2 separate regions of the Homo sapiens genome follow, and region 2 is linked to region 1. A link means that fine-mapping ties the variant in region 1 to the plasma level of a protein whose gene starts in the linked region. Region 1 holds a variant in brackets. A gene starts in the other region. All regions are shown on their forward strands. Region 1 overlaps MECOM (MDS1 and EVI1 complex locus). Region 2 holds the start of EDAR (ectodysplasin A receptor).

What was found. PIP is the chance, under the fine-mapping model, that this variant and not a neighbour inherited with it causes the effect. The UK Biobank Pharma Proteomics Project read protein levels with antibody pairs (Olink). The fine-mapping took linkage between variants from a reference panel, not from the people measured, so its PIPs are less certain.
Region 2: it holds the start of EDAR, and the variant in region 1 is fine-mapped to the plasma level of the EDAR protein (UK Biobank, PIP 0.98).

The regions. Positions count from the first base shown.
Region 1 is chr3:169,143,897-169,158,808 of GRCh38, forward strand. The region is part of intron 2 of MECOM (MDS1 and EVI1 complex locus); the gene reads right to left. Among named protein-coding and RNA genes, the nearest start is that of LINC01997, 150 kb to the left of the region's middle. RefSeq lists a silencer at 5,543-5,602. The variant T/A (reference allele first, on the strand shown) is at 2,866.
Region 2 is chr2:108,982,130-108,998,581 of GRCh38, forward strand. EDAR (ectodysplasin A receptor) reads right to left here and starts at 7,091. Exons shown (of 12, transcript NM_022336.4): 1 at 6,831-7,091. It also overlaps a transcript of RANBP2 not described here. RefSeq lists an enhancer at 5,564-6,065.

The DNA.
Region 1 (14,912 bases):
TTTGAAAATATTTCATTGAAATGTATATTCCTTCTTTGGATCCTTAAAAAAAGTCAGATCACAAGCACATTAATAGAGGGGAAATGAGAAGTTACCTTGAAAATGACAACATACTGCTTTTTTAAAAAGGAATAAAGCACTTGCAATTTGTTACAAAAACTGATTAATTGGTTTCAAAAATGCTTATTTTCATATGCATAAATTAGTGCTAATTTTATCCAATGTGATTTTTGCAAAAAATAATATTGAACAGCGTATATTAACATAATATTTCTAAACATTACAGTCAATATTTCATATTCGTATAGTCTCATGTAAGCATATATTTTCACATTTTTGCACTTTAATTTAAAAACTTCCATCTAAATTTTTTTTTCATGGTTAGCATCTCATTACCATGAAACAATTAAATCACACTCTTAATTGAAGGAGATAATAAGATTTGTCTTATAGGTGCTTCCAAACAAACTAAAGAAAAACAAATTAAAATAATGAATTCGGAAACACTCATGCAAAGTATGGCAAACTCAGGTTTTAGTTAACACATGTCAACGCATGTTTCAATATTTTGTCTAGTAAGCAAAATAAAGCTGGCTCCTTGTGAACAAATAAAAAATATATTAAAATACTGTAATGAACTGCCATCATTAGGTATACTTGTATCTTGTTATTTTTCATGAAATTTTACATTTGGCCCATCTAAATGTTAATCATTAGTTAGGACACACTAAACAAAAATTGAAGAGGGAAACTTCCATTTTTAAGATCATGTGTACTTAAACCAAGCTATTCTGATTCACTAACAGCAATAATGTCTTAAACATCAATATTAAAAGCTGTAGAGTTGTTGACCTGATGGTGAATAACTACAAAGGATGGTAATGTTATGTCAATCAGTTAATACAAACGAGGAAGTTTCCTATCAAAGACTAAGCAATATACCTAGAACAAAAATTATTGAATTAAATAACTCCTACAGATCTCTGCTGTATGCATAACCACATAAAAGTTAAAATTAAACTCTTGAGTACTGAGACCAAAAGCAATTTTGCATAGAATTCAGGCAATCACCCAATTGCAGATTCAAGTCATTAACTCACCATATACTTCAAGAAAAACCCAGTGCTCCAAGGGCTTTAGTCAAGAAGCCCTATGAATAAGCCTTTGGCCATGAGGAAATTGAAGGGCAATAAGTCGTCCCAAAATTTAAAAAAGAAAAATCGAACATAAGATAGGGATATTATTAAACACACACACACACACACACACACACACACACACACACACACACACAGAGAGAAATCAAACTCTTCTTTTTCAAGGATGCCTCTTCACACTAACAACGACAGAAGTGTACACTTAAACATCCTTTCTATTAAGAGGACAAATTCTAAAAATTTGTTATCAATAAAATTACAAACTTTAAGATGTTTCTTCAACTCTCAGTGCTGAGTAACTCAAATGGCAACTTGAGATTTCCCCCCATCCCAGATGTTGAGAAGGTACATAAATAATAGCAATGCACATTTTTAAATAGTAAAAAGTTGGAGTTTGTTGCTGGGTTTTGTTGGTTTGTTCAGTCTGTTTGGTTTCTGGTTGATCTTTTGTTGTTTGTTTCCTTGACTGGCAAAAAAAAGAAAAAAAAGAAAAAAAGAAAAAGAAAAGGCAGTTCTCCTGACACACCAAAGAAATATTTAATAAAGGACATAGAATAAAGCCAGTGAAATGCAATACTAATTCCATTTCATATTTGCAGAGAGACGTGGAAAACTTGTTAATTTCAAAGTCAAGAAGCATCCATCCCCTTAGCTTTCAAGCATACCCTTTCACAGGGGCAGGGAGTTAAGTATTACATACACTGCACATAAAAATTGTAGGTGTAATTTTATTCCGTGTTAACATTATTAGCATTGCCACTGTCAACAGCAAAATTAATTTTTAAAAAGGTTCATTTCCAAAGAATGTCTTTTTACTAATCTGTTATACGATTATTCAAAGATTTCACCATCATATTAACATTCTTCCTCTCAATATTCTTGCCCCAAGACAAAAGCTTAGCTTTCTCCAGAAACGTTTGCCCCCTGGGTGAATTATTCACTTTTGATTTGCTAGCAGAACTGCATTTGTCTCCCAAATGTCTTAATCGTGTCGGAAATCTCGAATAAAATAAAGTAACGACACATCTTCAGTCATTTCATATAACACACTCCTGTGTTTTTAAAAGCTGTCAACCTCCAAAGATAGCTTAAAAAAAAACCGTTTAGGTAGACTTTAGAGAAAGGCCCTTTCAAAAAACCAACAGCAAAAGGAAAAAAAAAAAAATCCCCACAATCTAGCCAAAGGGTCCGAATGTGACTTTCTCGCGAAGCAGCACACGATGTTGGACAGCAAAGCTGTTACTTGGCAAGGTGGAACTCGGCCGAGAGCGGCTCCAAAGTCGCGTGGCCAGTGCCAGGAATTCAGATTTTGGCAACCGCACCTTGTGCGTCCCCGAAACCGACGGACAGAGACACACGGAGGGAGGGGAAGGAGGAGAAGAGCGCAAGGAAAAGAGGCCGACAAGCCGGCAGAGAAACCCACCGAAGGCCGGACGACCCACCCCGGAGACGTGTCCAGACCGCACCGTTTCGCAGGAGGAACAAGGAAATCGCCCGGCTTAGCAACGTAGATAAGCAGCAGGGCTCCGCGAGACTGCGGGCGAGGAGGAAAGAAGGCTGGGGGCGGGGGGCGCCCGTAGAAACGGTGCCCCGGCAGGAAACTGTCCGAAGTGACAAACTTTCACATCGCCCAGACTTTTTTTCCTTTTAAAGTGAGGAGTTCTCTTACCTTTAGATTTCTATGGCCTCAACTCAGCAATAATAGGCA[T/A]TCACAGAAGAATCAAAATAAACAAAATAAAATAATCAGCAGCCCCCAACGCTCCTGCACGAAAATCCTTTCAAACGATCCCGAGCAACATTTAGAGATGTTTAAAAATAATAATAATAATTTTTTAAAAGCCTCGCGTCTCGATTTCCAAATGGGTCTCTGACAACTTTGTCCGTCTCTAGGATCTGCTCTCCAGGACCACGCGTTTCGGATTTATTGTCCGCCAACAGTGTATTTTTAATACAAGAAATGAAGTCTTCTTTCGTCTGGGTGACCCGGGTTTGGTGTGTTTTGGCTTTTTCCCCCTTCCTAAATGAGCTCGGAGCTATTCCTTCTGGTTCACATCACCTCCCTCTTTTCTCACTTTCTCTTGCTCTTATCAGCCCGATGTGTAATGAAAGTTATCTGAAACCCACTAAAACTTCTACTTCTCCTTCCCAGTTCCAATGGGGGAAAACAAGCAGGAGGAGGAGAGTTTGAAAAGGTGGGGGGCCTGGGGAGGCGAGGGGAGCTCTATCCCCCTTTCAGATCCTCCGCAGCGCCTTCGCGGGTCCTGGACCCTCACGGGATCGTCCCCTTTCGCAACTCCAAGCTCAGCCGCCGGGTTTCTATTTCATGAACTGTCTCTTTAAAGAGGATCTGCTCGGCCATCCAGAAAGAACCCGGGGCGAGGGAGAAAGGGAGCTATCTCCCGCCGCCCAGAGTGATCTGATCGGAAGCCAGACGGGCTCCTCTTTTAAATTTTTAAAGTGACAGCAGCCTCCTCTGGCGGGAGAGGTCACAAAAAGGTCGCCAAGACCCAAGTCCTATAGGGACAGACTGATTATGGATGCACCATCCCCCTTAAACATGTAGATTTCTCCGGGTAAACAACCAATGGGGAGATCTCGCCAGGCAGGATTTCTTTCCCCAGGGAAATAGCCTCCGTTTCGATGTCTTGAAAGCACAAGTGTGGTGTGTGTGTGTGTGTGTGCGCGCGAGTGTGTGTGTGCATGTGTGTGTGTGAGAGAGAGAGAGATGGGGGATGGGAGGGATGGGGAAGGGTAGAGAAGTGCTTTCAGGGGTGTGAGGGTGTGTGCACCGAGGCAGGAGGGGGCGGGGGTAGGGGGGAGAGGTAGTGCTGGAGTGGGGAGGATAAAGCTTAGGGTATAGGGACGCTAGTTCAGACTAAATATAAATAGTTTAGAAATTCTCAGAAAACAGCAACCTCAAGAGTGAAAAGTTGACATGTACATTTCCAGTTTTCTGCTAAGCATTAAAAAAAATTTTTTTAATTGAAACTCATACTCTAATTTATTCCCTTCATTCTTGTAGCTAGGTCAGAGGAAGGGCGTGCAAAATTTTCAAACCATATTTTTCTTTAAAGATATTTTAAAATCTGAAAAATTATTGGCATATAACCCGCCCAAACAGCATATTATGGGTTTAGAGAGATTGATGACTGTCTGGTGAGTCTTTGCCATTTTCTTTGATACATTAATTAAAACACCTTGAACGCCAAAACGTGCAATAAGCAATTTGACGACTCAGATTATTTTTGAACGTTTAACATCATAAATGCTGCTTTTAGTAATCGGTACTATCCTATGTTTAATAACTTTCTAATATACCTTGGGTACATTTAAACCAATACATTGTAGAAAAGACATTGGAAGAAAGAATACAGGGGATACATAGCAAAACAAAAGGGTCTACAGATTTATTCATGGCCAACTTTGTAAGATTTAGTAAATCCCACTGGCTAAATGGAAGTAAACGCGTTTTTATCACAAAACTCCATTCATAAAAACAAATGGACAAAATCCAACTCCCCAGCTCAACAATGGAAAGTTAAGCAAAGTAAGCGAGTCTAGGGACACTTGCGGGGGAGAGGTGGGGCAAGAGGGGCTGGAAAGTGTGCTGACGGTTAAACTTTAGCTGCAAACGGGATAACACAAGTGCCACCCACTTTTTGTTTTCTCCAAGTGCAAATAAACGTGTAAATCCAGTAGAACTATATTTTCCCAAAATATTGATTTAAAAACAAAAATAGTAGCAAAAGGGAGGGATTGGGGGAGAGAAAATGACAAGAGGTGGTGACTAATTTGTTTCGGTGGCCTGTTATCTGTGACATTGAACTGTTATTTCAGATAATGGCCATTGTTTGAGAGAAAATCGCACAGCAGTGGTAGGTAGGACAGGAAAAATCCTTTGTAAATAACCTAAAACCCGGTCAGATATTCCCGTAGAGTTGGGCGCTTGAGAACCTTTAAGAGCTCCTGGTTCGTGGCCATTGATTTCCTGCCCTCCCTCAACTTGCCCATTGTCGGAGCTTTCTTTTTTTTTTTTTTTTTTTTAATTTAGCCATAAATTGGACCGGCTCGAGCTATGAGCTGTTCTATTTTCTTCCTGTCAGGATGAGGGATTTGTTTTATGATGCATTGTGTATTAAATACAAGTAATCTGGGGAACCGATTGCTTCAGACAGTGCGGCCTGATCAGGGGGTCTGGGAGCTCAGCGCCCCAACCCTGCGGCCCCCACCTCCTTGCCCTTTACAAAACTGCTTTCAAAACGAGGAAACGTCGGTAGGAAAACAAAAGGTCGTCTGGAATCATTGGCAGGTCCTGGCTAAATTAGGATTTCGTGGAAAGGGCCTCCGAGTTTTTTCCCCTATATTGGCTTCGGGTGGGGGGAGGCGGAGCGACTTTCAAGGTCTGGATACTTGCAGGTACGGCAGGACGCCGGTAGATGGCATTGCGCTCCGAAATAAAGCGCAGCGCCGGCGGCTCCAGCCACCCAGGTGAACCCGCCTCTGCCCGCCAGGCGCCGGCAACACAGCTCTGCCTTCCGCCTCGCCCGCCGTTCCGCGTCCTTCCGAGCTACGAGAGGAAGGCACACTGCAGTCCAGGCATGTAGACATCAGCCTGAGAGAAGGCTATTCCTACGTCTGAGCTTCTCTTCCCCAAATACAACCAAGAGTGAACGCTTACCCTCCGAGACCTTGGAAGATGTACCTAGAAGAATGGAGAATTCATTGCATCATCATTATTATTATATTAATATCATCATTATCGTCATCATCAGTCTTGTTCTCCACTGAATAAATTGTGAAAAAGACTAAAGGAAATCATCAGAAGGACCTGGGCAAAGGAAGCTAACAAAACACTAAATCTTAATCTCTCTTTCTCTCTCTCTGTGTGTGTGTGTGTGTGTGTGTGTGTGTGTGTGTGTGTGTGTCTGTCTGTCTGTCTGTCTGTCTGTCTCTCCCTCCCCTCTCCCCCACCCCATCCCACTCCCTTTCTCCTTTAGGTATATAACAATAACTTCATGTAAAGGCAGAGTCATCTCACTTTTTCTTCACACAACTTAAAGTTTAAAGATAGGGTTCTGAAATCCCACAGTAGTTAGACTGGCCTTGTTTCTCATGAAAGGGTCTTCTTGCTATTTAAATAAGAATTATTTAGAAGACCTGATCCATCTTCCCCAATAAGTGAATGAAACAGGAAAGAAGGTTAGAGGAAAAGGATTTTGCAAGGGGCTTGCTTCTTCCCCTGTTAGCTTGCTTTCCATCAGAAGGTTTCTAAAACAATAAATAAATACAAGGAGCCAAATACCATCACCAATTCCCTTTATTCCTTGGGATTTCTGGTGAAATCTGTTTACAGTAGTTCCCAGTTACAAATTAATCTGCAAAAGCCGCTGTCTGCTCAGCAGTAATCAGTAACATGCGTGTTCTGCAGTGTTTAGCACTGCCCTTGAAATGGGCTATTAAAAATAATGGTTTTACTGTAATCTCAAACCAGCTTTAATTTGCAAACATGTATCAGGACAGATGATCTAAATATTAAGGGGATGGAGTAGGAGAACAAACTAAAACAAATGTATAGCTTCGGGGAAAGAAAAAAATGGAATGATTCATCAGTGATGTTTAAAAAGAGAACCAGATTTTAAAAACATTTTTCCAGAAGGAATGATTATTTTTTCTTTCTTGATCTGTTAATTGTTGTTTACCAGGAAAAGGGCATTGGAAAAATATGAGGGTTGAGTGTGGGCTGATAGATTTTCTAGGAGTTGTAAAGATCCCCCTTTGGCTGATGGCAGGGCTGGGGTGGGAGAGGTTAATGTGTTTTCTTCCTGGTTTGAAAAGGGCATAAACCCTCCTCAGGCCCCTTCCTTCCTTCCCCAGCTGTGTGGATTGCAGAATCTTTAAAAAGCCCAAAGATTTCCAATAAGGCCACTGGCTCTGCCTTCATTGTGTAACTGTTTATTTAAAATAAGTCAATATATTAGTTAAAGCAGTAAGAAGTTAGTGCTCCAGTATTCAAGTGATTCCCACAAGACTGTAAACTGATGCCTCTTTTAAGCCTTAAACTTCATGGTCGTCCCAGAAGTAAAAGTTCTGCTAATGGAGACCCTATGGGCATGGTACATTCCAGCACATCATTAAAGGAAAGAAAAGCAGTCCAGCCAAAGCCAGATGAAATGACTGCACTGTCCACTTTTAATAGGCTTCCTGTGGACAAACAGCACTGTAACACTCTGCAGAGGACAATATTTAAAAACAAGACAACTTGCTGGCAGTTTTCAATACCGTAAAGTTAATAAAGTATGTTCCCATTCACCCTGACATTATGTTTTTAGTTTATAGAGGAAGGCACTTTATAACCTCAGTCTAAATTCCCTTAATTCTGCAGCTTTGGGTTTCTTGAGGTGGCTAAATATACACTAAACTCCAAGCCTAACATCTTTGTTTTAACTCTATTTTTTTGTAGCTTTTCAAGAACGTACATGTGCATTTTTACATTTCTCAAGTGGAGTTTTATTCATGGAGATTCTGTTAAATCCTGTTTCATACAGTTCATGTCAAGAAGCATGAAATAATCTGAGAAATTGACATTTGGCTGAACAATAAGTGCCTGCTAATTAAATTAGCTTCGTGTATAGATATTGATGTGTGTTTAAAAAGAAAATCAATGCTTCCTTTTCCATGTCAGAATAGGATTTTGTAAAATCTTACCTAACCTAACTGACACAAAGATAAGAAATAATGTAAGTATGTCTTTTAGGACTCAAGAGACTTCCCACTGATTCATATATAAATATTTCTCCCAATTTGTCTTTCTCCTACTCCTCTAAATTCTCTACCACCCACAATTTCTTTTCCCAAATCTTTTTATTTAATAGAGTAAACTTTGTAATGAAGCATGACCTTTAGGCAAGATAAACTAGATCAGAAAGCCATGAAATCTAAGGTGATATTCTGTTTAATTTTAATAATTTCTGTTTTTTAATTTAATAAGTATTTTGCAAGCTTTGTTCTCTAAGCATGAATGTGAATTCTGTGATGCTTTGATCAGACAGATCCAGTGAAACAGTCCAGCACAATACAAATTTACCAACAAAAATGCTGTGACTGTCCGTAGCCCCACACACATATCACAACTGCACTGAAGAGAGATTACTGGTGACTCTTGGTGGACTCTGCCTTTTTTTATTTTTTTTAAATTATTATTTTTTTTATCTATTGGGGTGTGCTGTTAGAAAAGAGGAAATTAAAGATAAAACAAATTTAAATAAAAAATTTCCCTTGGTCTGGAAATGGGCCCGACTGAAAGCATGTTAATCTCCACCTCAGTAATTTGGTTCTCCAGGAGAAGACAGAAGCCCTGCTGCTGTGCCCTGCACTTCATAAATCACATCTTTATGTGGACAAGGTCAGGGCACCTAACAGCTCAGACATGGGCCTTTGCAGTGGCTCGAGGATTCAGGCATGTTTACTCTCCTATTCGGCTCTCCGAGGAGTAGTCCAGCACGCTTCTAATTACTTTTGATTATTTTCATTTGCTGGGGTCAGTCTGGCTTGCCAGGACTGCTGGAGGGTTGATTTCCTACAAATCTTGATGTCTTTGTAGGACGGCACTGTGTGCGTTCAGAATTAGCACCCCGTTATTGTCCCTACAGCATGGGATCCTTCATAAATAGACATGGTGATAACAAAAGTTTCCCCAGTGAACCATTACCTACTTCCTTTCTTATTAATTAACTATACAAGCATAATCACCTAGCTGATCTTTCTCCAAAATGCCAAAGATTTTAACAGTTTAATATTTTATAGTATATTTGGCCAGAATGAGAGCAGATTTCTTTTTTGCTTCTATTTTAAAATATATTTAGTAACAACTAGCAGCTCTTTGGAAACTAAGATGAAGTACTTTGCTGAAACAACCGCTCTGGTGAATAAATTATTATACTCAAAGTTTTATTTTTTAAACTCCAGTTAAGGTTGCCATATTTAAAATATTTTTTGCTGGACTATTTTGATGTGTTTCAGTCCTAAGCTATGATGCTGAGTGGTTAATGCACAGCAACAAATTTATACCAAGTTTAAATGAAAATATTATGATAAAATAAAAATGTTAATAAAATACTGTAAAACTTTGGTAGCAAAATAGAGACAATAGAGAAATATTTCCCAAAAGTAGGGATGTTTAACTCTTTGATGTGTATTTATTACAAGATATATTCAAGAAATAAATGATGAAAAAATAAATACAAAAACTGAGACAGTCACAAAAAATGCATAACATATCAATCTGGTTGTTCAGACAACTGGTTGTTTTATATCACTAGGAAAAATTTACTATTATCTTTTTATTTTATAAAAGATAACTTTGCTTACGATTATCATTAGTCTCAAAAGGTGAAATCCCTCATTCTTTTTAACTTCGGACTAAATTAGTGAGGTAGTAAGTGCTTTTGGAAAAAACCTCAACTCTATAAGGAATTCATTTTTCATTATTTTATTAATTTTAATTAATTCAATCTTTCAATATAGTATTTAGCACATTATGCAATAACTCCAGGATCAGATTCTTCCCTCGAGCTTTAGATACACCATCTAAGAGTGCTTTTAGACTCATAATCTTGTGGGGAAAGTTTGTTGGAAGCTTGATTTTCCTCCTCTCTCCACGCCTAGCTGTGTACCTTTGGGTAAGTCACTTAACCTTTGAGTTGGTTTCCATGACAGTTTCATAATATCAGACTATTACGAGTGTTGGGAAAATAAATTGGGTAACGTGAGTGTGAACTGCCCTGAGTTCATGGGAACAGGTCAAAATACTATAAGTTTCACAGTATTTGTGTTTGTGTAACGGGTTACAGTAAACTTACATACATGCACAATGAGGAAGATAGTCTGGCCTATACTTTGGGGAACAGCAAAGTGTAAGTAGTTTTGTTTCCTCTTTCTTCCATTCCAGTGTCAGTTGCCCTAATCCTTACCCTGACCTTGGAAGGGAAGAATTTTAAGAAAAGTGTTTTTTTTCTCTCAAGCTGTGCTACCCATGAAGATGTCCGTCTCTGTCTGGCTTGCAGCTGAGTTTGTTCTGTTCTACCCACTGTGTTCTCTGCCAGTCAGTAAGAGAGAGTATTCTGCAGCAAAGGTGGAATACCATTGAGTTCCAGAGCCCTAAAAACGAGGGTAGGAACACACACACACACATCTTGGACTAGTTTTAGGTCAATATTTGTTACCAAGGCCAGGAAATTTATTCTCTACAATGTCTCCTGGTAGACAGACTTTAAGTACCAAGAGGGCAGGAATTGGGTCTATCTTTTTTGCCCCTGTTGCCCAGAGTCTACCATAATGCATGACATCAAGTATTTAGTAGATGTTTGTTGAAAAAAAAATGGATCAGGTCCTTCCTTGACTTCCATTCTCACCTAGTTTGAATGCCTAATTTGGATGCCTGTTACCTCTAGTCTGAATTATTGCAATGATCTCCTGCCAGATCCTCTGACCACCATTCACTCTCCCACCAGTTTAAAGTCCTTGATGTTAATCCTCTCAACCATCTGCTGTTACTTATTCCCTTGCTCACAGTTTTTCAGTGAGTTCCGATTGCCTAACAATTCAGTATAAATTCATTCCATTTTTTTTGAGAATTCAATGAGGCAATGTAGGTAAATCACTTAGAATCATGAAGAGGATATAGGATATAGTCAATAGAAAATAGCTATTATTATTGGTATTGCTATTATAATTTTAATTGCTATCATTATTATTGCTCAGCCTATAATTTATTTTGCCTTGGTTATCATAGATAAAATCTTATCTATACTTCTAAACCAACCATTTTTTATGTCTGCTGATTTTTACCACCCAGGCTTGACCTTTCCATCCTTCAACCCAAATTATCTGTGCTTCTCTCCTGGTTTATAGCCAGTTCTTCCTTACTTACAGGTGTGTCTTTAATGCTCTTGTCCTCCTAAGGACCATTGTAAGATTTTTAAGGACGGAATCAAGTTTTGTTCCTACTGATATCTTCAATAACAGCTTTCCATCATAAACTAAACTGTCTTTGAGACTTTTTGTAAGAATAAATTAATTATGGCTAAATGTATGGGGAATTACTTTATTTACATCCAAGCAAAGTTGGTTACTTAACACTATTCCCCCTTAGGAATCAGTTGATGCAGTGATGATTCTTTTTCAGGGATTTAGAAAGGAATTCCTACCACTGCTGCCTCTCCAGATAGCACAATATTGCCATACTTGCCTTACCCCATGTTTCCATTTCTTTACCATCTCTCTCCTTTCTCTGGGCACAAATCCTGGACAGTATCTTGGACTCCTCTCCTTCCCTTGTCCCCAATAAATAGTCATTGGTTCAGTTGGTCTGTTAAACTGTTTCTACAGGGTGCTCATTTTCCCACTGGCACTGGTCTAGTGAAGGCTATTGTCCTTTTAGGCCTGAGTTTTTGTGGCATTTTTACACCAAACATTAGTCTTCCTAAAATAACAAAGTTATAACAATGCTTTGCTTTACCTAAAAACAAAAGGTAAAGAGCAAAAAACAGAAGAAAAACCGCACTAACAAAAACTCCAATGGATCCCAATTTGCTAGAAAATAAAGCCCCTAATCCAAAATGCAATCTCCTCTTTTACAATTTGATGTCAAATTTATCGTCTTTCTAGGCCCATTTCCTGCTTGTTTCCTCTACACAAATCTTTAGCACTGGTTAACAACTGGAAATATGAATAGAAGCTCTTGGCCCTTCAACTGTGCTGAGGTAGGTCCTTCACTTCTCTTACCTCTGACACTGACAGCGTTCAGGAGATGAAACAATAGATCAAGTAGGCAAAGTGATAGTTCCATTCATCAAGCTCCTGCAAAGCCTTCCAGGCCCTCTTTCTTGAAATTTTTACAGTATGTAATATTAAAAGCATTCACTAATTAGTCATTATTCTTAAAATAGTTTGGGATATTTCTGTGATCAGCCAATCTACCTGTATACTGTTTGATGGCAGGAAACATCCTTCACACCAGCATTTTCTAATTGGTTATTAGAAAAGTTATTATCAGATATTCCCTGGAAATTGGCTCTGAGGTCAACTCAGAGAGCTAACTTCACCCAATGGATAAAGATAGCTCCCTCTTGGAGCTTCACAATGAGCACCAATGTGCTAAATACACTTAAGTCTAAAACTCTAAAAGTCTAGGAAATCCTTTAGTAAAGAGACCTATTTGGCTTATTCGACCAGGCATCATCGTAGGTAATTAAACTTATGTGAAAGCCTCTCTCCTCTTCCACTGGAACACCTAAGGAAAACAATTTTGTAAATAAAGTTTTATATTACTTTGTTTCAGAAAAGCATAAATATTCCCCATACATATATTTTTCTATCAACTGACTGTTCTCAACTCTTGATAAAAAAAAGTCCCCACAAAACAGTCATAAATAAATAAAGACAAAATGAAGCTTCCACATTTTATTCAAATTGAAAGCATTTGGAAAGTCTATAAAGATCACAAAGAAAGTAGGTTATCAGTAAACTCTAGCCAATCGATCCTTTGCCTGTAAACTATTACAATTGTATTTGAGTACACGGCCTGAGAACCTTCCAAAGGAATATATACAATCTCATTTCAAGATCAACCCACTTCTTCCTATCCTCCTCCATTAAAAGTCCTTCCAAAGCAGAGATTTTTACCATGGGCATATTCACATGCAATGTTTTATATTATTTAGACTTTTCTTAATAAGATTTGGCATTATCTAGATATGCATTTCCCTAGGAGAAAGAAAAGCAGCAGTGCAATCTCCATCTAAGGATGCCTGAATTAAACCTTTAAGAATTCACCTTTTTTCCAGTTTTTGATATTAGATTCATGTGTTATGCCTGCCCATGACTGTCTAACCACGAAACTAACTGGACATTAAATCAGATGGCATACAAAATTACAGGAATTTGATCTTTAGATAAACCACAAACCTTGATGAACTAATGTTGTTCCAGATGAATTAACTCATCCTGAGAAACAGAACATTTCATAGGAGCGACCACACAGTCTTCTCTGCAAAGAACACTAATGGCTGTGATTAATTTGTGTTCTATTGAACGTGCTTGCTTCTATTGAAAGTACACCTAAAAAGGTGTATACTAAAGGAAGGAAGAAGGCTTAGTCAGGCAATTCTGGCCTCAGAATAATTGCCCCACCCCAAATCTCTGATGGTGGATGCTGCATATTACTTATACTTGGTTATGATGTCTGTTACAGCGTTAAGAAACAATGAATGTGTTAAGTCATTATCAATGATTTCATGAAACATTTATCCTTTCTCTACATTGGAAATCCTAAAATTTCATTTCACTATTTCAATGACTGTAGCCAAACACTTAAAAAATAAAGTAACAACACTACAGAGCCAGAAAAGTATGTTTAGTTTATAATCCATTTAGTGAGTGTCACATCTTATGATACATATCAAATGGTAAAATGTCAAAATATTCCAATAGCAATTAAAGTACCAATACAATCTCTATATCATTGTGAAAATATGGACATTGATTTCAACTGTAGCTTTGAAAATATCTTTCTGTAAATGTTGTTGAGTAAATTCTTCAACTTCAAATAAAATCTTAATATAGCCTGTCTATAGAATCCAGAATTAAGTACTGGTCAACTTCCAAGAAGCAGATTCTCAAAGGTATTTGTGTTTTCTATGTAGTTCTTGGCTGGAAAACAAATCCAAGTTTGCTAACACAGTGCCCTACAACTAGAAGGGGGGGATGCCAGAAGGGACATGAATGGAAATACTTAAAGAGGAAAGAAAAATATGCACCCTGATTCACACATAATTTCTCTCCACATATAATCTGGACTGCCAATTTATAAATAAACCATAGAGCTGGATCATGATGTGGAGAACATTGAAATGATGAGCCTAGGAAGGTGATTGAAATGACTACAGGTTTAACATTTTAAACTCATACTTTTGTCTAATATTACATTGTGCCTTATACAATTTTATATTCCTCCACCCCACATCCATTCTACAAGAGCTGGCGAGGTTCAAAATTTCTCAAAAAAAGTGTTGATTAATTAAATTTAAATGACTCACTAAGTGTTTTAGCTACGTAACTTTTAAAAAATGTGGTGGTGGTTGTCGTCCCTGGAGAAATTACCATAAAACTGTTTATCATTGTCCGTATATAATCTCCTTGGTAATCAGTGTTGGAAGATTTCAAGAAGGTCATTATAAAAGTCTTCATAAAATATATTTTGCTGAATTTTAATCTTGGAAAACACAGTGAAGTCACAACATATACACGTTCAAGACTTACAACTATTACAAACAGAGGGAAACGGAAGGCAGGGAGTATGGATGAGAGAGAAAGAGGGAGGGAGAATGAATGAGCCTTTACCCAGGAAAGAGCATGAGACGGAAACACGAATCATCTGTTTCCTCAAAAGGAATCAGTGTTCAAATGCCTTTTGTACTATGAGTATCGTGTTCCATCAAGTGTGACTCTCGGGTTTAAAGATGTGTATTTTTCACACCATGCATCCTCTGAATGCAAATATACCACTTCCTCTGGTGCTCGGCCGAAGCCACGGTGGTCCATTCCAACACTGGATGGTTCAAGAGCAGAGCTGAGCAGAGGAAAAATTTGATTATACTTGATTTTCAATTACCTGCTCACTGTAGAACCTAAGCTCTCAGTAAGATGTAAATTCACTGAATTTGGTTTCATTTATGAAAAATATTCCATTGCAATGAC
Region 2 (16,452 bases), not on the chromosome of region 1:
GGCCAGGTCTTTTATTTCTATTAGATCTCCCAAAGCCTTGAGAAAGATCTAGAGCCCGTTGTCTTACAGCAAATGCAGTGGCCTCTCTAACAAAGAAATGTTCCAGGGTAAACAGGAAAGCAGCCACCTCAAACCCCATCCAGCCCACACTGGGAGAGCTGTTTACAGAGATGAACCCAGGGAGGTGGGTGGAAGCCTCAGACCCTCCCTGGTGGGAGGCTGTCCTGCCACCAAAGGCCTCCATCTCCAGAGGCTCCTGCTTTAACTGATGCCGTGGGAGGCATGCAGCCAGTCCTTTAAGAACTAGGGACATTGGCGTTTGCCAGTGTCTCAGTTCTGTTTATTCTGTAAACATAAGGAGGAGCTCAACATTCTGTTGTACTTCATTTTGCAATCTTCACAAAATAAATATTTGCCTTCAAAAGCAACAACTGTGATAATCATCAGGATAATATTCTCCAGCGCCATTTCCCTCGCACATGCCAGGCACAGAAGGCAAGTCAGAGTGCTGTGTGTGGTCTGTTTGGATAATAATTTTCATCTGGAAACCTCAATTTGGAAACCAACTGGCAGTAATTCTAGAGAAAGTTTGGTCTCCTGGTTTTTAGAATTGACTCAAAACCGAGTGTCCCGAGTCACCTAAGTCTCCTTGCTTTGGTTACGTCTGCCCGTAAAATGAGAAGCAAAATTGCTTAGTGAGTGCTGGCGGGAAACTAGGACATTGGCGGGGTTCACAGTGGCCACAGAACAAGGACTGGCCACCCAGACAGGCCAGGTGCCTGCTGCATGTGCAGGGATGGTCTCTCTCTCTCCAAATCTCTCTAAGAATGAGCTAAAATTCAAAAAGAGTTCTGCTGAATGTAAATGGTACTTATTGGAGATTTTATTGCCCATAAAGAAATCCATCAACAGAAAACCACACTCTGCAAATCTACCGATGCACAATTAGTTTGTGCTGCTTACAAATCCCACTCTAAACTCAGCTGTCAGTGCCCTCCCTTGGCCACGCTTCTTGGAGATACAGGCTTTCTGCAGAGGATGCCGCATGTCAACAAACACATCCCCAAAGTGTACACTCTGATTTATCTTCTTCATTATGGACAGGAGGCTTTAGGAACAGCCATTTTGAGTCTTTATTAAGGACTAAATCTTAAAGAAAATGAACCTTGAGACTCCTCTAAAGTACCTTTTAGGGATGCTCAGTGCATTTCCATATTTTTAAGGATTAGGATTTTTTGGGGCCAGAGGTAATGTTTATTACCCAAGGACACAGAGCCTCAATCCAAACAGTAAACCATAAAACCACATCTAACTGGGTAAATAAAATCAGCCAACTTAATAGACATCTGCATCCCACTGGAGCATTCCCCGTGGCCTTCCACTTTCCTGTATTCATCAGACCCCAACCAGACATCAAGTCAACAATCCCGCCCTTCCAGCTCCTCCCTCGTGATCCATCTGTCTGCCTTGACTGCCCTGGAGTTCCCAGAGACAGGTATCCTCCTCCAGACTGACTTCCCTCCTAATCGACCTGCATCTTCCAGATACGAGGAAGGAAATCAAACTTTCCAGGTGCTGGTGGCTCCGTGCGGGACGGGGCAGGGAAGCCACCTTCTCTCCAACTCCAAAGGCCATATGGAGTCAACAGGAACAGGTCTGGCATGCTGGCCAAGGGCATCAGTGATCTCTGAACCCGTTCTCCAACAATTTTGCCAACTGAGCCATCAGAGAGCCACTGCGTCCCCACTCCATCTCACACCCGATGCTGGAAGGTGTCCCTCTCTCCAAGTGAGGAGGAAGCGAGTGCAGCTGGCCAGTGGCTCTGCGACTGTGGGAGTGTCCCAGCAGGGCTGCAAGGGGGGCGACGGCGATGTCTGTTGCTAAGTGTTCTTTCTCTGCACAACTTATTGAGTCTTGATAATCTACTTTCAGATTTTTGGAAGTGTAATCATGTGTTTCAGGTTAGGGTCTTCATAATTTTTCTCAGAATGGATCCCTTTGGCATGTGTTAACGGCCAAGGGAGCAGGTGTTGGTGAAAATGGATCATTCCTCTCCTGCCACCCTTCCTGCTGCCTGCCCTTCCTGCCCTGCACCTCAGCCAAGCCAACTCTCCCAGGAAGAGGCTACTTGGAGACCCAGCTCCTTAGAAGCAAATTACAGCAACCGGCGTGGCATGGGATGGGGTGGTGTGGGCACTGACTGTCCCAGAACAACACAGGGCGTGAGCCACCATGGCTGAACTTCCGCCCTGACTTGACTTCTGTTTGCCTTTCCATCACCCTCAATGAGAGCCCAGCCCCCTTGCCACGGCCCGCTCAGGCTCCTGGTTCTCCTCTCCTCTCCTTCTGTTCAACCCTCCTTTCCCTCTGCTCCGGCAGCATGGCCTTCCTGCTGGTGCTGGGACATCTCCAGCTCACCCCACCCCAGGGCCTCCTTTCTTGCGGGTGTCCTGGTTCACTCCCTCACTTCATCCAGGTCTTTACTCAACTATTTCATTTCCCAAGAGGCCCCCACTACTACCCTGGGCACCTTCTTTCTACCTGCCCTGCTAGTTTGTTTGTTTTTTTTTCATGGCGCTGGATTTATGCATTATAGCTTCTCTCCCTGCAGCAGAATCTAAGCTCTGTGAGTGCAGGGATGTTCTCTCTCCTCACCCATGGGACCACTGTGTTACTCACTACATCCCAGCATGGTGCCTGGCATGTAGCAGATGCCCAGAAAACATTTGCTGAATGAATGAATGTGCACTAAAACCAACTTGAAATCCTGCCTGCTTCCTCCTGTGCATGCAGGATTCTGTGCAAACATGGGATTGGAAATATGGCAAATGGAAGTTTTAAGAGAAGAGATTTGGTAACCATCTGAGAGTCGTCAAAACAGTGCATGCCCTCTCATTTTTTGCTTGCAGTCTGGTTTTGCATGTCTTTCTTCTATCCTAAGAAAGTGCTTTCTCTCAGGATTAAGGTGTTGTTGGCAGAATCAACTCTTTTTTATTTTCAGGAGACTAATACTGTATCTTATTTCAGTATTTGGGCTCACCTTTTAGTTGCCTATATCTAGCTATTGAATGGTATCAGTTAACAACATCAGCCTTAAGCCCACCACTAAGCTTGGCTTCTGTGCTACACTGCGGGCCTCAGGGCTGTTACTAAGAGTAACGTGACTGTGGTTGTTATTGCCCTCATTGCTGATTTCGTCCGACTCACAAGTGAAGGCGCGCCTTCCTACTGTGTTTGGAGCAGTAGGTCTGATTGACCGTGAAGTGAGTTAAGCTGGCATGAGCTCGCAGGGTGGTGCAGGCAGGGCTACCGCCACAGGTGCATCTTCCTCTGTAGGGCTCCTTACGGCCCACCTGTTTTCCATAGTCCTCTGTTTTCTCGGAAATGGAAAACAAAGGCATCCTGGCTGGTTACATGTGTACGTAGGTGTATAAAATGATGGGCATTTCCAGAGTGTGTCTGGGCAAGAGGATCTGGGCAAGGAAGCAGGACCTCCAGCTTCACCCACATGTGTCTGCTCCTTCCTGGGGTCCAAACAGTGTGTTTGCCACCCTTGGGCATCCAGCATTTGAGAAATAACAGGTGTCTCTGCCCCCAGAGAGGGTAGCTTTGCTAACTAGGATTTGTTTGCTTATTGACTTAGGGGATGCTGATGTTTGAGCAGCCCCCTTGTCCCTAACTGTGTCATTGGAACAATTGGTGACCTTTCTCTGACAAGAAGGATGAAGGAGCCCATTCATTCATTCATTCATTGGACATATTTTCATGGAGTGCATGATGTCCTTGGGGTGTGCTATGACTGAAGACACTTCAGGTTGTAGGATCCCTTAATACATGACCTAATGAATGGCTGATCCCTGCCAAGACCCAGGGCAAAGCTTTTTTCATAGCTTTGACTGTACAGGGTCAGCTATCCTTGGGTAATGCTTTGTGACACTCTAAGGGCAATGATGAAAAATTAAATATGGTCAAGCTCATTTGTCTCAGGGGCCAGTGGGCTGTTGGGATGCCTGAGCCCCAAATGCCATTTTGAGTTTTTTTTTAGTTACTAGACTATCTTAGACTGAACCACCTACAATGGCCTATATTTGACAGTTTTTTTCACTATATAAAAACTACAAACACTCTAACTTTTATCAGGAGGGTTCACAAAGAACAAAACTGAGACTGTTTCCTCTTGATCCCTCGCCTCTGAGGACAGGAGATGAGTGTGTCTGGGGCTGACACGACCCTGGGAAACTAAGATACAGGAGGGGGAGTGTTTGCTTACTCCACTCTTATTTTTATAATCCCTGGTGGCTGTCATTGCACCATCTCCTTGTGGGGGCAAATGTGTCAGTGTTGGAGGCAGAGGACACAGGTTCTAGTCTCAGCCCCTCCAATTATGAGTGACAGGCTCCACACGAGGCCTGGGCATACTGAGTGCTAACCTAGACCAGTTCTTGGTGTTCCCATAATCATTATGAGCTGTGGGACTTCGGGCAAGACAGTGAACCTCTCTGAGCCTCAATTTCCTTATTGGGAAAATAGAGAAGACATTCATGACAACGCTTTGTAAAGTGCCATAGAAATGTACAGCAGAGGTTAAATGATTAGACATCAGCTTATGTTTCCTTGCTTTATTTTTTAGGAAAATAGTAATCTTTGGGACTTAAAAAAAATTCCTTCCTGCAATATACGAATTCAGTAAGGACAGAATCGTAGGCATTGAGATGGAGGCGGCATACTCACAGGAAAGGCTGGCTGGGGCTTTTGTCCCCTAATTGATCTAATGTGCTAAGTGGGCTTAATGTAAGTTAATTAATGATACTATTGGTGGGTGGAATACCTAGGCAGAGCCTCAAACAGCATCAAAGGAACGAGCAGGCAGGTGTCATCCAGGATAATTGAGGCATGCAGGCAGTCACTAGGCAGGCTAGGAGGAGGGTGAGGGGAAACTGAGCCCAGCTGAGGGGCTGAGCCACTTAAGCAGCAAGGCTGTCTGCCAAACACCATCCTGTTTACAGCTCCTGTATTTGAATTTCAGATTTGCTTGAGTCTTTGAAGCTGGGTTCCTGGGCATTTCCTTGAGAATAAATTCTATTCTTTGGAAACCACAAAACGCACTCACTTGGACCCAGAAAGGAGCGTCAGGTAACCCAGCTTCCATCTGTGGGCCTATGAGACCTGAGGAACTTTGACTAGAAGAGGCTCCCCATTTAACAGAGGCAAGTAGGTTTTGCGCTCCGTGAGATGGGGTAAGACCAGGTCTGTCTGCACTCCGGAGCAATGTTGGGCTGCCGCCCAATGGCAGGCACTGGGCTAGGCAAGAGGGTACCATGATGCCTGAGAAACAAAGATGAGCCCCTGACATGTCTGTGCTTCACAAATGTGTATGCCCAACAAAATGAAAGTCCAGCTCACAAAAGCAAGAAACCAGGTAGTGGCCAGGGAGTGAAAATCAAGCATTTCAGGGAAAGTGTATTTACTTTTTCCTCCCAAAGACTGGTCCTTCCAAGATTATCCTCCAACTGTGCTGTCACAAATTAATCCTCCCACAGCACAGCCTGGCCCACTTAGGGATGGGGAGGGGTACAGTGGAGACCCCCGGCCAATCGCCACCAGGATCGCCAAACTTTCCCAGCCGTGAAGGGTACACGTGGACTGTCATCGGAACGAACGCTTATTTCCAAGCCTTGACCAGAGTCACTCTCTTTTTGGTGGCCTCTGTCAAAATGTATCTTTAAAGGTTTTAAGTGGCTATGACTTACAAATCTCAGAGTATTAAGCCAGGCAAGAAACATTCTCTATTTTAGATGCCTGGATCCCTTTTTTCCTTCAGTCTATTATGGCTCTTCACTTCTTTGTTACACTTTCACTCTTGCTTAGAAAGTGTCTCAAAAATGCCACTTGAGAGCCACAGAGCAGTGGCCTGGGGACTGGGGAAGAGGACGGTGGTGCTCCTGTCTCTCCGTACGTCTCCTCACATGCGTGTACCCCTGGCTGTGTGGGATTGCCCACTGACCGGCATCTGCCCTGCTTGTTGATTTTAACTGTCCCTCTTGTTGCTGACCCAGCACAACATGGGCAGGGAAACCCAGTGGGAACCTCGCCTGCTGACCTCCCTGCCCAGCCACCCGCTTCTCCCTGAGCTGACATCTCAAAGCTTGGCTGCTGCAGGAGGCTGGGAATCAGAGCCGACTGAATCAGAGCCGACTCCTGTCTAGGAGCCCAACCCACCCCACGGTCTGTCAGAGTGTTGAGAGGAACCTCTTGGCTGGAAATGAAAACCTCAATCATCACAAATAGGTACCCACTCCCCTCCTTCTCTCCCTCTCCCCGCTCCCCCGCCACCAACACAGAGGCCAGGATATGGGGGGTCTCAGACACGACTGGAAACCCCACTTGGAAGGTCTCTTAGGTCACAGCGGGTACGCAGAGTTGGAGGCAGGTACAGAGCCCAGCTAGAGTCCCTGCCGCGCCTGCCTTCCCCAGTGAGCCGGGCACAGGGGCAAACCTGAGAAACATACTTTTCACGCTCCCTGGAGGAACCCGTTGCTTCAGTAGCCCAAATCTTAAAGCCTGTGAAGCACACACAGAATTTGTCTCCCTAACCAAATGTGCAACCAACAGCAAAACAGGGTTTCTGATGTTTTTCTAAAACAAAGGAACAATCTCAGGTCTTAGAACTGGTAGCGCAGACATACTGCAATCGGTAAAGCTTGTTCAAACGCAACCCAAAAATGACATGCATTTCAAAAATGCACCCAGCCTCTCTCCCAGCCCATGACACCTCCGTCTCGGCCACAGCTGAAGAGTTTAGAAAACCAGAGGAAAGGACCAGGGCTTACCTGGCTTCTGTTGGAGGTCAGCTTCAGTCCCAGCAGAAGATGGGTCTATGAAGAAAGTCAGGTACCATCCAGTTCTGGGTGACAGGCTTCACAGGTGGCCACCGTGGCAGCCCTCTCAGAAGCAGGTACTCTATGTCCTTAGGGGCCAGCAGGGCTGCCTGGGACCTGGCACACCTCTCTGACACTAGCCCCGCTTCCTTTCCGTTTAAAGGGCTTCCCGGGAACTCTTCCTTGACCGCTCCCTGCCCTGTCTGCAAGTTTGGAAACTCAGTCCTTGCCGAGGGGCTTTCCCTCATTGCAAACTCACCTGCACCATCTAGAGGTCTCTCCCAGCACTGGAGAGGCTGGAGCGGGCACGTTCAGCCCTGCTGCCATAGGTCCCTGGCACACCTGGCTCTCCGGCCGTCTGCCCCTTAAGAGATCTGTTGGAATGCGTAAAAATCATGGATTTTTTTTTTTGCAGGGGTGGGGGCCTTGCTTCTATCAGAGCCTTTAGGCGTGGGAGTGCTAAAAAGCTAAACTAGCATTAAAATATCATTAATCAAAGCTTGTTCGTAGAAGGACCCCCCACTGAGATGGCTACAGGCATGGGTGCCACTGCACGGATTCAGCTTCCAACATGTCTGTTCACATTCTCACCCATCCCCCGCACATCCCTCAGGGTTTGAGCCACCAGGACTGCTCTTCCTTTCCTCTCTCTGGACACCTCACACCACCAGTGTATACCCATGTAACTTCAGATAACCATACACACCCCCCGTATAACTAGGTAATTAGGAAGCCATTTGAAACATCAACATTTTGAAAGGACATACCTTTCAGTATTGGGCAATTATTTCTCAAAAAGTAAATGATTGGGGGGGGGAAAACAGCCTTAAAATAATGTCATTCTCTTGTCATTTTCTCCCTCATTCACACCTACACAGATAAATACAGGAACAGAGCAGCTCCTCCAGGCTAGATTTCTGTGTTCTCCTTTTCCATCTTGTCCCCTCTGCCTTGGAAACCTACAAGGTAACTCACACATGAGAAAGTAAGAGCTTAAGAAAGAAACAGTCTGGGCTCCGTGGCTCACACCTGTAACCCCAGCACTTTGGAGGCTGAGGCGGGCAGATCACTTGAGGTCAGGAGTTTGGGATCAGCCTGGCCAACATGGTGAAACTCCGTCCCTACTAAAAATACAAAAATTAGGCCGGGCGCGGTGGCTCACGCCTGTAATCCCAGCACTTTGGGAGGCCGAGGCGGGTGGATCATGAGGTCAGGAGATCGAGACCATCCTGGCTAACAAGGTGAAACCCCGTCTCTACTAAAAATACAAAAAATTAGCCGGGCGTGGTGGCGGGCGCCTGTAGTCCCAGCTACTCGGGAGGCTGAGGCAGGAGAATGGCGTGAACCCGGGAAGCGGAGCTTGCAGTGAGCCGAGATTGCGCCACTGCAGTCCGCAGTCCGGCCTGGGTGACAGAGCGAGACTCCGTCTCAAAAAAAAAAAAAAAAAAAAATATACAAAAATTAGCCGGTGGTGGCATGTGTGGAGGCTAAAGCAGGAGAATTGTTCGAACCCAGGAGATGGAAGTTGCAGTGAGCCGAGATTGTGCCACTGCACTCCAGCCTGGGCAACAGAGCGAGAATCTGTCTCAAAACAGAAAAGAAAAGAAAAGAAAAAAGCAGACAGAAATGTATGGGGCTGGGGCAAGGACCTAGACTGTAAAGGACTAATTCTGCCTCCACAGAGATTAAGCTGAACCAGAGTTACTTAGCTGACTTGATCCTTGTGGATGATTAATCTAGATAATATAAGCTCCCAAACAAGAATTTTAACTTGAATTTTCAGGTTTGGTTGTCTACCCTGCTCATGCCGAGTTCAGACTGAGGGTCTGTGATAAATTAAAGTCACTGAAATTATTAAATTAGGAACCTGGGAAAATGAATGGGAGGTATTCTGGGCTAATCTGTTCTACTCCATATAATTTTTACTTTCTGGTGTGCTCACAGTGTGTTTGAGGTTTGGGATTATTTTAGGTGTAACTAAAACATTTTTTCTATTGGAAATTAAGTGGTGATTTAAAATTTACCAAAAGGAATGATACTGATATTTCCCAAAGAGAGAGAAAAAAGACACAAGAAAAAATTAAAATGGCACAAAATATGGATGCTGTAATAGAAGCCAAGGGAGTTTTTTCCTCTCTTTGAAAAAAATCCAAACATCATGGCATTAAGCAAGGTTATGGATGGTTATACTTGAAGTCTGCCTAGTCATCATATCCAAATGAAAATGAGTATATAATTAATTCAGTTGATTAAGAGAAAGAATGAAATGAGAAATCATTGCTTATCTTCATCATGTAAAGCTCCAGAGCTTTGAAGATATGTGATTTTCTGTTTTATACATTTCCTAAGAGACTGAGGCAGAAATAGCAACAGGTTATCAATAGCATTTTTTAAGTAAGAAAATGAATCAAGACTGCAGAACATGGTTGGGTGAAGGGGGTCTCCTGGGGCTGTGTTCTAAATTTAGAACAAATTTAGAAATGATGAATGTAATTTAGAACAAATGAATTGTAATTTAGAACACATGCTTGCTACACATAACAGCCCGGCCAGCCACCTGCCCCCTTCATGAGGTGTGCTCAAATGCATGGCCAGGAGTCTTATGGAGGGGCACAACAGGCAGGCTGGCCCCAGCTCTCAGCTCCGCAGCAACAAAACTTCGCAAGTGATTTTAGAGAGTCAATGGACTCCCATCCCTGTAAAAAACACTCAGGGGTTGGTAAGAATTATCTTGCAGATCAGATAATTTCCAGTGAGTGAAACAGAGCCATATTCTGGTCATCGTGATTTTAAATTTGTGTCTTTTATTTTTTTGGTGAGACAGAGTCTTGCTCTCTCGCCCAGACTGGAGTGCAGTAGCGTGATCTTGGCCCACTGGAACCTCTGCCTCCCAGGTTTAAGCGATTCTCAGCCTCCCGAGGAGCTGGGATTACAGACATGTGCCACTGCTCCCATCTAATTTTTGTATTTTTAGTAGAGACAGAGTTTCACCATGTTGGCCAGGCTGGTCTCGAACTCCTGACTTCAAGTGATCCTCCTGCCTCAGCCTCCCAAAGTGCTGGGACTACAGGTGTGAGCCACCGGACTCACCTTAAATCTGTGTCTTAATTACAAATCTCATGTTGTGTGAGCAGAAAGAAAATCCTTGATACCCATGTACCCCATCAAAGTAGCATTCTCCTATGCCATCATGTTCATGTGTTTATTCATGCAGCAAATGCACGTCACGTCTTCTACGTGCCGGTACTGTTCCAGTTGCTGGGTAGATCACAATGAGAACAACAGTCAAAATCGCTGGCCTCAAGAAGCTTATGCTCTGTTTGGGGAGGCATAGAGTAATCAAGTTATGAAATGGAGATGAAAAGTACTTCTTGGCCGTGATAAGCAAGGGTGCACAGGATGCCTGGATTATTTGTGTTTGTATGTGAGGGGATTATCAGTTGGCTGGTGACAGTTTCCTGCTACTAATTACTGTCTCAAAAAGTGGCAGGGGAATCAAACACTCCAAAAGCAAGATGCTCCTGTCTGGCAGCTGGGCCCTGACATATAATTGGTTTCACCTAACAACTCACCACAGCAAGTAAACTTCTGGTTACCTGCAGGTGAAGTCTATCTCAGAAAACCTTCCAGGAAATGACATTGCTCAAATCCTAACACAGTGTGTGTATATTTGATGAAATGTTTTTATGCTCATGGTGACACCCACTAAGTTATTCAGAATAAAATGATCACAGTTCTGTCTATAGTGTAGAGTTTGCAGCTTCAAATTTGTCCCACAACTGGGACTGTTTTCTGGAAGAACGTTGCCCCTGCCTCGTGGCACAGTGGCTCCCAGGACTGACCTGGCCTGGCTTCTTTGCTTTCCTAAAATGCGTTTGTCCCCAGCTCTGTCAGTGGTAACCTCACAGGGCTCTGCCCTCCTCAGCACTGGCCAGCTAGTTTTTAAAGTATCATCTCAGAGCACCCGCTACTCATGTGGTCACAGTTCCATAGGCAGAAAAAACAGGAATATAAATATTTGTGATTTAAAGTCTCTCTTAGGAACCACACCTTCCTAGGCTTGCAAATGTGCCTAAAATATGAGAATGGAATTGGGTGATACGGCGGACACCAGCAAGCTGATGTGGGGGTAAGGGGGTGTGAGGGGCGGTGCTTTGGTTGTTGAGAAGGAAAGTTGACCAAGACTTGCGAAGGAAGAAGGCAGTCCTGCAGAGTTGGGCAGAAGGTGTTTCAGATGGACCAAAGGTCTTGTACAAAGGTCCTGTGGGGCCCAGAGCCAGGTGTGCTGAGGAAACTGACAGGAAACTGTGGCCACAAAGCAGGGAGCTGGCCTGGGAGGCAGCTGAGCCCAGCCCAGGAAGGGTGGTAGAGACCACATTCCACGTGGGGGCTGGACAAAAGGGTATGGATTCTATTCCAAGTATATCATGATTTGAAAATGATGGAAACTTGTTTTAGAAGTAAAATGGGCCACTATCCTTAGCAAAATGAGGAAAGGGAGAGACTAAGTCTGGGGGAGTATTTGCACAGAGGGAGGGCCTTTAGGGTGTCACCTAGATACCGGGAGATGAAATGCTATGTGAACCATTGTCAAGCTTGGGTGATCTGTCCTCCCCCAGCATAAATTCAGATGGGACAGCTCCAGGTCAAAGGCAGAGGAAAGAGCTGGGCTTTGCGTTGATTGTACCCTATTGGAGAATGAGATTCTGCATTTAGTTATTTAACTAAACTTTGAACACTGACCCCCTGCTACTGATTAAACAAAAGCCTGGCTTTCCTTTGGCTACCTGCCTTAGCTTGGGCTGCTATAACAAAAATATTGTAGGCTGGGAGGCCTCAACAACAGACATTTGTTTCTCCCAGTTCTGGAGGCTGGGAAGTCCGAGATCAAGGTGCCCAGCAGACCCAGTGTCTGGTCATCTCCCATGGCAGATGGGGTGAGGCCGCTGTCTGGGGTGTCATTTACAAGGGCACTAATCCCATTCATGAGGCTCCATCTCTAGCCTCCATGACCTAATCACCTCCCAAAGACCCCACCTCCAAATACCATCACCTAGGAGCTTAGGATTTCAATATATGAATTTCAGGGGAGACACAGACACCCAGACCACAGCACTTCCCATTTGCCCAGGATTCCCCCCATGGACACCTTATTAAAAATGCAAGCTGGATTTGGAACACAGCTGTCAATAATGACTCTGGTCACATAAAGGAAGGACCATAATGAACCACCTCCATGGATGAAGGAAAGCTTCAGGCCAGGAGCTTCGTGCAGGGCAAAGGCATGCCCTCTCCCGTGGCCTAAGCTCTCTCTGCTCCCCAGCCAGGGTTTGAGACGGCCCCCACCACCTCCATTATGTAAGCAGTGAAAACATAATTGAAATTGATCCTCGCTGAGAATGGCTTTACGAGCTTGAATAGTGCAAAGGTTCAAATACTAAATCTTTTTTACGATCTGTAATATTGTCATTTAGCTCAACAGTACACATCACTATGTTTTTCTAATAAAGGAAACCACAAGAGTATTATAAAACCTATTTGCACTATACCAGAAAAATTAAGAGGGGAGAAAACTGAGTTTAGAAATATGAAATATTGATATCTTCATTTGAAAATCAACAAATTCATCCTTCCAATAGGCAAGTACATATTTCTATCATAAATCATGGCTCCGGGGAAAGGGGATTATGGGGTCATGGGATTATCATGCTATTAACCAGTGGATATCTAAAAGCAGGGAAGTATGGGTCCATAGTATAAACATAAAAAATTATCTGTGCATTGGGTTATATATATATATATATATATATATATATATATATCTTTTTTTTTTTTTTTTTGAGACAGAGTCTCGCTCTGTCGCCCAGGCCGGAGTGCAGTGGTGCAATCTCGGCTCACTGCAAGCTCCACCTCCCGGGTTCACGCCATTCTCCTGCCTCAGCCTCCCGAGTAGCAGGGACTACAGGCGCCCGCCACCACGCCTGGCTAATTTTTTTGTATTTTTAGTAGAGATGAGGTTTCACCATGTTAGCCAGGATGGTCTCGATCTCCTGACCTCGTGATCCACCCGCCTCGGTCTCCCAAAGTGCTGGGATTACAGGCATGAGCCACCGTGCCCGGCCGCATTGGGTTTTATTTATTAGTATTTATTAATCAATGGATTTTTTTCTAGAGACAGGGTCTTGCTCCATCACCTGTGCTGGAGTGAAGTAGTGAGACTGCGGCTCACTGCAGCCTCAAACTCCTATGCTCAAGTGATCCTCCCACCTTGGCTTCCCAAGTTGCTGGGAATACAGGTGTGCCTGGCCAAATTAATGAAATTAAAAATCACACCTATTACAACATTTTGCAGGTAATCTGTAAGGCAGAGGAACGATTGATTTACAAGGGCTAATGTGTTCTTGCAGGGGGCATGTTAGTTCTCCCTTACTCTTCACCTGCTATGGATATGAACCCATTGTCCAAAGATCCCCAAAGCTGTGGTCAGCAAAAGAAAGCCAAAATGGGAATAAACAGGCATTTTAACAGGAATTCACCCTGGCTGGCAGAGCTGCTGCCTGCCACCTCTTCCCAGCCTCCCTTCTCCAGCAGGAATCTCCCAGCTCTGCTCAGAGCAATATGCCTGGCTAAATGGTTGCATTTCTTAGCTTCCCTTGCAGTTAGATGTTGCCGCGTGCTTCAGAACTGTCCAATGAGCCACAGCAGGTGTCAGAGACTTCCAAAAAGGCTGCCAACTCATCTGGGAGGAAGCTGTTCTGCCCCTTTCCATGCGTCCCCTTTGCTGCCACCTGGAGTGTGAACATGACAGCTGGGTAGACATCAGAGTAGGACGGAAGGAGCTCCAACCCCTTGTGCAGCTGCCCCACCAGGCCCAAATTACCTGCCTCATTCATGGGAAAGAATAAACCCTCATGTCTTTCAGCCACTGTAGCCAGGCCTTATTAATAAAGACTAATTAATTTGCAGTTTCTCATTATGAAAAATTGGGATATGCAATTTATTCTTTTCTAGATAAGCAAGGTTTAAGAAAGTCTGCTTTATGGCAATTTTAGCTTTCATATCAGTTCTGCTGGGGTATCATTCATAGTATAAAATGATTCCCCAAGGAAATGAAGTGTTGACTAACTGGAAAGATTCTGATTTGGGAAGAGGGAGTGAAGAGTGAGAGTTCCCTGCTGCCTAACAGTGGGGATAGGTGCCAGGCTTCTGGTGTTGACCAGGTTTGAACCCCAGGAAGGTCTGAGTCTGGGTCTTGGTTCCACCCTAAGCCACACAGTTTAGGGATCTTTACACCCCAGGTGCAGGGATGTACGTTTAAGTCCAGCACAGTTTCTCACAATCCCAAACTGGGCTGGACACTAGAGAGCTCTCCTCTACTCATGCCTTCAAGGTGGCTGGTAATGTCCAACCACACTCCTTGGGAGCAGCTCAAAGTAAATAAGAAAGGCTCCAGATAGGTGAGTGGCCACCAGGACACTGGCCTCATTAAGCAGGCCCATTAACGGTATGCGCCATGGACTTCAACAATGAAATACATACCCCAGACGGGATCTAGGGGATTCACTGACTGGGAGAGAGTATGTGGAAACTTCTACTTCCATTCCCCCCTGCCCATGAGCATGGAGCCCAAGCCTGCTGTGCTGTTGTCCTGTGCCTTTGAATCAGTGATCTTACCAGCAACATCCATCTGCACAGGCCAACAGTGTGGCAGTAACACAGGAACCCTGAAGTCTCGGTGGCATAATACAATCATAGCTCGTTTCTTGCTCATGTCACATCTGATGCGGGCTAGGTGGCTTTTCCAGATGGTTCTCCTGCCAGCAGTGACTCAGAAACCCAAACTCCTTCCAGCCTGTGGCCCCACCATCTGCCTCTTCTCAGGTCAGACAGGAGCAAAGGCTTGGATGAGCACATGGGATGCTCAGGACCAGGCCCAGCAGTGGCACACCACTTCAGTTGGCTAGCATCTACTCACATGCCTCCAGGCTGACTGCTGTAAGGGTGGGGAGTGCAGTGTTTTTGTGTGTCCAGGAGCAGAAAATGGGATTCAAGTGTGTAACTAGTCTCTGTTGCCAGAAACTTTCCTAAACTCCTCATTCTGTTTAAACAAAACCTCTAGCCAGTGGGTCTGAAGCATAAGATGTCCTAGTATGGCTGGGCGCAGTGGCTCACGCCTGTAATCCCAGCACTTTGGGAGGCTGAGGTGGGCAAATCACGAGGTCAGGAGATCGAGACCAACCTGGCTAACACGGTGAAACCCCGTCTCTACTAAAAATACAAAAAATTAGCCAGATGTGGCGGCGTGCGCCTGTAGTCCCAGCTACTCAGGAGGCTGAGGCAGGAGAATGGTGTGAACCCAGGAGGCAGAGCCTGCAGTGAGCTGACATTGCGCCACTGCACTCCAGCCTTGGAGACAGAGCAAGACTCTGTCTCAAAAAAAAAAAAAAAAAAAAAAAGATGATGGTCAGTAAGGGTTTAGAAATGTCCAGAGAACACCTGCATTTCCAACCTTTGGCATACCTAACAGATAGAAAGAGGCAGGATGGCTGGCTGGATATCTGGCCCTGGAGCCTGAAGACCTGGTGTTAAGACACTGCTCTGTGGCCGAGCACGGTGGATCACGCCTGTAATCCCAGTACTGTGAGAGGCCGAGGTGGGTGGATAACGAGGTCAGGAGTTCAAGACCAGCCTGGCCAAGATGGTGAAGTCCCGTCTCTACTAAAAATACAAAAAATTAGCCGGGCATGGTGGCAGGCTCCTGTAATCCCAGCTACTTGGGAGGCTGAGGCAGGAGAATCACTTGAACTCGGAGGGCGGAGGTTGCAGTGAGCCGAGATCGCGCCACTGCACTCCAGCCTGGGCCACAGAGTTAGACTCCGTCTCAAAAAGCAACAACAACAACAAACAAAAACACAAGACACTGCTCTGAACATCCTGGCATGAGCAAGCTGGCTAAGTCCTCAGCCTCGGCAAGTATCAGTGTGCATCTCTGAATGATGGTGATTGTCTTTTATGGGTCATGCTGAATTGCAGTGAGATGGTTGTATCCACTCTTCAGTCTACCGGAACTGTTGCTCTCCCTACACTCTGGGATTGTTCTTGCCTAGGTCACCAGGGACCTCCTAATTGCTAAAGCCAGTAGATACCTTTCAGTCTTTATGCTCCTGGAGCTTTTTAATGCCATGCAACAAGACCATGATCTCTTCTTCCTCTGTGAAACCTGACTCCTGGTTTATTCTTGGTCTCCTGTGGGCCATTCATCTCGACCTGCCCCTCGGATAATGCTGTTTCCAGGGTCCCACTGCTAGGGTCTCCATATTCTCCCAGGCTCATTGTTTCATCAGCCTGGCGACTCCTGCACTTAATTTTGAGCCCAGGCTTCGTCTTTTAAGCTTTGATTCTTGTATTCGTGGAGTGGAAAACATCTCGTTGGGAAGTCTCAGAGATGCTGGAAACAACACCCTCAACACATCCAATCCTCCTCGTTTCCTGAATCAGCCAGGACCACCACTAATCCTCCTAAGGAGAGATCACAGAATCATTTTCAGCGTCTTCTCTCTCACTGTTTATCCTG